Linked DNA regions of Homo sapiens. The protein of the gene in region 2 purifies or fractionates together with the protein of the main gene of each other region. This does not show direct contact. Each region holds a gene or a part of one and is shown on either strand. Other genes may lie near its edges.

The links. Proteins that work in one complex are often made in the same cells at the same time.
Region 1: the proteins of COLQ (region 2) and P3H1 purify together in Homo sapiens (affinity purification with mass spectrometry; 2 studies listed by BioGRID and IntAct, with this or other methods). This does not show direct contact.

What each region holds. Positions count from the first base shown.
Region 1 is NC_000001.11:42,757,029-42,760,528, forward strand, and holds part of P3H1 (prolyl 3-hydroxylase 1 isoform 1 precursor), read right to left. Parts: intron 2,363-3,500; coding exon 2,173-2,362; intron 1,956-2,172; coding exon 1,824-1,955; intron 895-1,823; coding exon 755-894; intron 1-754. UniProt on the Homo sapiens protein: Basement membrane-associated chondroitin sulfate proteoglycan (CSPG). Has prolyl 3-hydroxylase activity catalyzing the post-translational formation of 3-hydroxyproline in -Xaa-Pro-Gly- sequences in collagens, especially types IV and V.
Region 2 is NC_000003.12:15,473,207-15,476,706, forward strand, and holds part of COLQ (acetylcholinesterase collagenic tail peptide isoform I precursor), read right to left. Parts: intron 2,282-3,500; coding exon 2,219-2,281; intron 1,746-2,218; coding exon 1,719-1,745; intron 1,067-1,718; coding exon 1,022-1,066; intron 830-1,021; coding exon 794-829; intron 1-793. UniProt on the Homo sapiens protein: Anchors the catalytic subunits of asymmetric AChE to the synaptic basal lamina.

The sequences.
Region 1 (3,500 bases), on a different chromosome or scaffold from region 2:
CCACGTGGGTTTATTTCCCCTCACTCCCCTCAGACTCCCCTTAATGGCCATAAGGAAGGCAGGGAAAAGGTATTAACCAAACAAGACAAAAGAGACCGGAAGTGCCATCTTAAAGCCAGATGGTCACCATCTAGTGGCTAAAGAGGACAACTACAATGACAACCCACACAGGAGGGGCAGCAAGAGGCTGTTTCTACTGGAGGCTCTCAGACTCCAGAGCTCGGAAGAAGAGCCTGGGTGTCTCCTTTCAGCGCAGCAGTCTTTGTGTTATACAGATATTTCTCCTGGTTTTGGAGAGAGACAGGGAAAATGCTGAAAGATGGGAGAGAACAAACAATGGCAGGAAGAAGAAGAGATGGGAAAGAAAATGGAGACAGAAAACAGGTGAGCAGAAAAAAAACAACCAGTATTAAGTGAAAAATGATAGCTCTTGGCCAAATAATATCGAGTGTCCAAGTTAGGGGTGCCAAGAGGGGAAAGAATATGCTCACCGCGCAGTTCTGCGGGACTCAGAGAATAGACTTCTGGGCCCAGATAACGCTAATTGAGGCTCCTGTGTACTCCCCACACTCCCTCCCTGTGCTCCCTTCTCCTCTGAATAACAAGCCGAGTGACTGAACTCACATCTGGCCCCAACACTGACATCTGGCCCCTGCCCTGCACGCACAGCGCCTACTCCCCTCTGCTACCCCACTCTTCCGCCCTCAGGTCTGAGTTCAGCTGGCAGCTGTCATAACAGAAGGAAGTCTCTCACCTCACGGGGGCCGATGGATCTGGTGTGTTCTTCTCCAAGCATAGCTGCATAATAGGCCAAATTTTGGTTCATCACCTCGTCATTGGGGAAGAAGAGAAGATAGGTCTTGGCACATTCAACAGCCTGTGTATAATTCCCAACTGCAAAGTGGAAAGAAGAATGGCTGAGAGGAAAGAGTCAAAAGGAAAGGATAAAATCCTAGCACCAGGGACCACTTAGTGTTCAGTCTCCACAAAGCTTGAGGCAATGGCAGCATGACAAGCTGGTGCCTGCTACTTAACATGATGGCCTGATTTCAGGGGCAGGAGTTAAGTAATACACATAGAATGTGTGATTAATTTTAAGGTGAGGTGGTCAATGTCCTCAGGGCTGCCTAACAATGAAACAGAAAAGAATCAGAATTCTCTGCATGCCCACATCTTTTAAGATTCACAAATAATTCCAATACTCCTTAATATTTTGCCTCAATACACTCAATCATTAGATCAATTTCCCTGTCTTCCTACCTTCTTTTTTCTATAGATTTTCAGAAGACAAGGAAGATTACAATAGCAGATTGTCTCTTTGGCAAAATAGTTCTTGTTGATATTTGTTAGTCATCTCAACTCAACTGTAAATATTGTACACTCATCAATATGTTTGTAATGCTTAGCACACAGTAGGGACTCTGCAAAGAGTTGGTTTTCTGGGTATTAATTGGCAGCCCCACAAAAGCATCAGTGCTATACCAGGGAGAGGGCTAGCAAATGTCCTCTGAGCTAGTTTAAACTGTGGCATACCCTTATTTTGCTATTAACTTTAATTCAAAAGCAAAAATAGATTACAAGTTATAGAAGGGACAAGAGATGAGGTCCTAAGTCTCCCTCCCCCAGCTTTTTGGGTTGCTGGTATTGGCTTCCTAGGCCAGTTGTTTATAACAAACTACCCAGGGATCACTTGGCATGGTGCCTCCCATAGCTACTGAAATAAGCCAAACACCTTGAGGAAGTAAGTGGCTGTAATCCCTGCCCACCTTGCCTTTAGCTTCTTAGTTAGCCAGCAGAGAAAGAGGAAGGAAAGTAGGCCTTACTGTTATAGTAGGCAAACTGCAGATAATTATAATGCGATGGGAGGAAGTCTTCAAAGGGCTTCTCTCGACTTGGGTGGGAAGCAAGCTCCGTGACACAGTTCTGCTTACAGTTGAGGACCTGGATGTAATGATCTGAAAGGAATCAAACAGAAGGAATAACTATGAGGTCACTCTTTAGAACTCAAATTCTGGTTAAGATGAACAAATTCAAATGGAAGCAATTTTTCATCAGCTTCTCAGATTTAATAAATTGAGGAATGAGGGTGAAGAGTCCCCATTTATATTATCAGATGGTGACCTTAGAGTCCCAGGAGGCCTGGCTGAAGGTCTGGCTCTGAACTGCACGCACCTGTGATGGCCTGGAAGAGGTCAGCGTTGTACTCAAGGTAGTTGTAGCCATCGTAGTCATAGGGCCCTTCGCAGAGGGCACGGCACTCCTCATAGGCCACAAAGTATTCTTGCAGCGCCGCCTCTAGGTGGGGCACAGCTTCCTGTGGCTGTTCCTCTGAGTAGAGTCGCACTCCCAGTCGAAATTCTTGCTACTGGGAAGAAGGAGCACTCAAATGCAGGCCACAGAGGAGGAACCCTCTCTCCTTGCCCTCAGCCACCTTCACAGGGGTCCTAATTTCCTGTTCCTCAGGTTATGGATGGAAAGGGGTGACCTGGGTACCACTATAAAATGAAGGCCTTTTGTAAATGGTCTTTACAAAATATTTAGCTCTGGAAATTTAAAAACATTTAGCTCTTTTTTTCTTTTTTTGAGACAGAGTCTCACTCTGTTGCCCAGGCTGGACTGCAGTGGCACAATCTCAGCTCACTGCAACCTCCACCTCCTGGGTTCAAGTGATTCTCTTGCCTCAGCCTCCCTAGTAGCTGGGATTACATTGTGCCCAGCTAATTTTTGTATTTTAGTAAAGACGGGGTTTCACCATGTTGGCCAGGCTGGTCTCCAACTCCTAACCTCAAGCAATCCTCCCAACTCGGCCTCCTAAAGTGCTGGGATTACAGGTGTGAGCCACTGTGCCTGGCCAAAAAACATTTAACTCTTAATCTAGATGAAAGATATCTAGGAGTTCATTATGATTTTCTTGTACTTTTCTTCCCCCCCCATTAGTGACAGATTCTTGCACTTTTTTTTTTTTTTTTTTTTGAGTCGGAGTTTCACTCTTGTTGCCCAGGCTAGAGTGCAATAGTGCGATCTTGGCTCACTGCAACATCCGCCTCCAGGGTTCAAGCAATTCTCCTGCCTCAGCCTCCAGAGTAGCTGGGATTACAGGTATGCGCCACCACGCCTGGCTAATTTTGTGTTTTTAGTAGAGATGGGGTTTTGTCATGTTGGTCTGGCTGGTCTTGAACTGCTGACCTCAGGTGATCTGCCCGCCTCGGCCTCCCGAAGTGCTGGGATTACAGGCATGAGCCACCGTGCCTGGCCTAGGTTCTTGCACTTTTTTGTAGGGCTAACAGTTTTCAAATAAACACAACTTACTTTTTGTTTTGTTTTGTTTTGAGACAGAGTTTTTTTTTGAGACAGACAGCCCAGGCTGGAGGGCAGTGGCATGATCTCAGCTCACTGTAACCTCCACCTCCTGGGTTCAAGTGATTCTAGCGCCTCAGCCTCCTGAGAAGCTGGGATTACAGACATACACCACCACACCTGGTTAATTTTTGTATTTTTAG
Region 2 (3,500 bases):
CAGTGGTGCAATCATGGCTTACCGCAGCTTTGACTCCTGGGCTCAGGCCACCCTCCCGCCTCACCTTCCTAAGTATCTGGCACTACAGGTGCGAACTACCATGCCCAGCTAATGTTTTGTATATTTTTCTTGGTAGAAATGGGATTTCACCATGTTGCCCAGGCTAGTCTCGAACTCCTGGGTTCAAGCCATCTGCCCACCTCGGCCTCCCAAAGTGCTGGGATTACAGGCATGAGGCACCATGCCTGGCCAATATTTAACTATTTAAATACAAAATTTAACTCTTAAACAATGTTAGCAGTCTTCAGTTCAAATACTTTTGTGTCCTTCTGGCAGTATGTGCACCGCCCTTGAAGAAGGACTGCAATAAGGCACAGTGACCTTAAGCTAAAGACACCTGTGCCTTACACTGAGGCCTGTGTGCTGACAGGGGCTTTGACCGTTGTGGCTCAGATCTGAGTCCCCTGTGAGAAAGGTTTCTGCATTTGAATAGGACCACAGCCCTCTAAGAGGTAGGAAAAGCAAAAAAGCAAAAAAACAAACAAACAAACAAAAACCCAAAACCCAGATGGGTTGTCCTTTCCTTCCCATTGAGCTAGAGGGAGGCTCCAGACCATCCTGCCACCCTCTCCCCAGGGTGAAAAGCAACTTGCTTCCCGTCCCAAAATAGAAGTTTCCATGGTTAAACCCACCATCCCTGCCTGATAGACAAGGAGGCAGAGTTCTTTTTGTTGTGCTTGGAGGACCTGATATTTTTATTGAGGCCTATTTTCACTACCTCAAGGTTACTTACTTTCTGCCCCAACATTCCAGGAAATCCTGGGAAACCCTGTGAAAAGAGCAACAAATAATTGTGATCACCTCTGAAATAACACCTGAAATGGCTGTGGACAGGCTTTGTTGGTCATTTTCAAGATGGAGGCCTGTCCATCAGTCCATCATCAGTCCACGGATGGGGGTGGGTGGGGGCTGCTACTTGCACTGACATTTATCATTTCTATGGAAAGGTTTTCTCCATTACCTTTTCTCCTTTGGGACCCAGGTCACCCTTTTCACCTCTGGATCCCTAGGAAGAAACCATAGGAGAAAGTCAATGAGTTAATATCCTGGGAGGGAAATTCAAGCATTTCAAACTGAAAAGCTCCCTAAACCAAAACCCTCATTTTACAAGTGAAGAAATAGGCTCAGATATGTCAGGTGACTTCTCCAGGGAAGGAATGCTTTGTGATCTACTTCTTGTTGAACCCCAAAGACCTCTTGCATTCATAAAGGACAACTCACGGAAAATTCTGGGCCCCAAATCCTCTCTCATCCTGTAGGAAATTTGTCCACAGGTTGATGCTGTTTTGATTTGGTTTTTGGCCAGGTCAGAAGGTTGTGTGGTGGTGAAAGCTTGGCCTAAAGACATGCATCACCAATTTCCTCCAGCACTCTGTGCAAACTGTGCTTATTCTCTACCTGGCACGGCCTTCATTTGCTTATGTGCTCCACACGAGGGGCCTCTGCCTCTATGGGGAGCCCTTCTCTTACCAGCTTGCCCTGCTTCAGGAGGTCCCTCACTTCTCTCTCAGTCCACTGACAAAGGGTGGGGAATAGCTAGGGATGGTGGCTTCAGTTGCAGACTAAAGAGAGACCTGGACCCATTCTCTGCATGTCTCTGATTCCAGAGCCAGTAGCCCAGACCAGGCTCTAGGACACCATCCAAGAAAAGCACTAACCTTTTCCCCTCTGGATCCAGGGTAGCCCTAAAAGAAAGCAGAAGGTACATTTACAATCAGCCCTGTAGGACTTCTGAGTTTGGTGGAAGAATAGAAGGAATCCCTGAATGTGGTGGTAAGGTATGTCTCCACATTGCACTGTGAGTTTTAGTGGGGTTGCAGCACCAAACACAAAGATGTCCCAGAGGGTTGTGGTTATACCAGGCCTAAAAGGAACATTGCTTTTATCACTCTGCAAAGTCCTGATCAAAGGTTTCCATCTGCTCTGATGTCCAGAAGCTTGGTTCTTCCTGCCCAAGAGAACAGCAGGAATGGCATCCCTATGCCCCTGCATCCCAGGGCATGATGTTCTCCAAAGGGCTGGTAAAGGCAGGCTCTCCAATATCCGCGACATTCCCTAGTCCGGGACTGCAGCCCCACCCAGTCCCTATGTTTGTAGACAGCAGCTGCTCCAGAGCCTGACAGAGATCTGGGAACGTCCATTTGGACCCCACACTGACCTTGGAGCCCATTGGTCCTCTTGACCCTGGCAAGCCCATCATACCCAGGTCACCTTTTTCACCCTGTGGGAATTAGAAGAAGAAAAGACCCACGGTGATATTTTTTAGAGAAACTGAACCAGGAAGTCACAGGCAAGATTGGGAAGGAACTGGGGATATCAGGGCTGGCTTGTAAATCTGAGGACCCCAGATGCACCCACTTTCTCCCTCCTGAGGTCCCAAAACTCCGTACTCCACATTTCATTCTTGTGTTTAAGATTAAATATAAAATGAAAACGCCCAAAGTGAAGCAGATCCCCACACCAACTGCTCACTAAGATGTTGTATATGGTAATACTTGGTATTTTCCTAGCGAGGATAGTGAGAGAGTAGTGGAGGGGGCATGACGGAACTGGGGCCCCAGAAAACAAGGTGTCAATACACGCAAAAAACATTGCCTGCTTTGCTCTTTGCATAGGAAGGGTCCTCAGAATGATTTGTGGTTGGGACTTCCAGCACCCACCCTCTGTACTAAAAATACTCTATACCAGCACTAACCAATAGAAATATAAGGTGAGCCACATACTTAATTTTAAACTTTTAAAAGAAGTCACCTTAAAGTAAAACTAAACGAATGAAGTTAATTTTAATAGATCTCCTTTAATCTAATTAATCATCCCAACTTGTAATCTATACAAAAATTATTGAGATATTTTACATTGTGCTTTTCATAATAAGTACTTGAAATCTGCTATGTAATTTACATTTACACATCTCCATTCAGGTGCTAAATTTTCATCCAAAATATTTAATCTGTACTTAGAGATCATAAAATTTATAGTTGAAAAAGCAGATTCATGCATTCAAGTTGCTCCAAACATACTTTAACATTTTCAAATAACTGAATTTAGTAAAGGTTAATTCAAATAGTTAAAATTTAAAAATTCAGTTCCTCAGTAGCACTAGCAACATTCCACGGGCTTGAGGGTCACATGTGGCTACTGGCTGCTGTGCAGGACAGCTCAGCTGTATGCAGAGGATTTTTAAAATATCCTTTTGGGACTTTTCCTAAGAGGACTGGACACACAGTTTTCCACTGCTATAATATAGCCAGTAAACAAATCAGAGCAGATGGTGAGATCCACCTGCCCAGCTCTGACTTCTGCAGATAAAACTCTGAGTCACGCCTCTGAACCCTCTAGTCTATGACTACTAGTGGGAAAAACAGAGGCACAGATGGGGATGTGCTTGCTTTCCATAGCCTGACTGAGGAAGGAGATTTCATCAGCACTCGACAATCCCT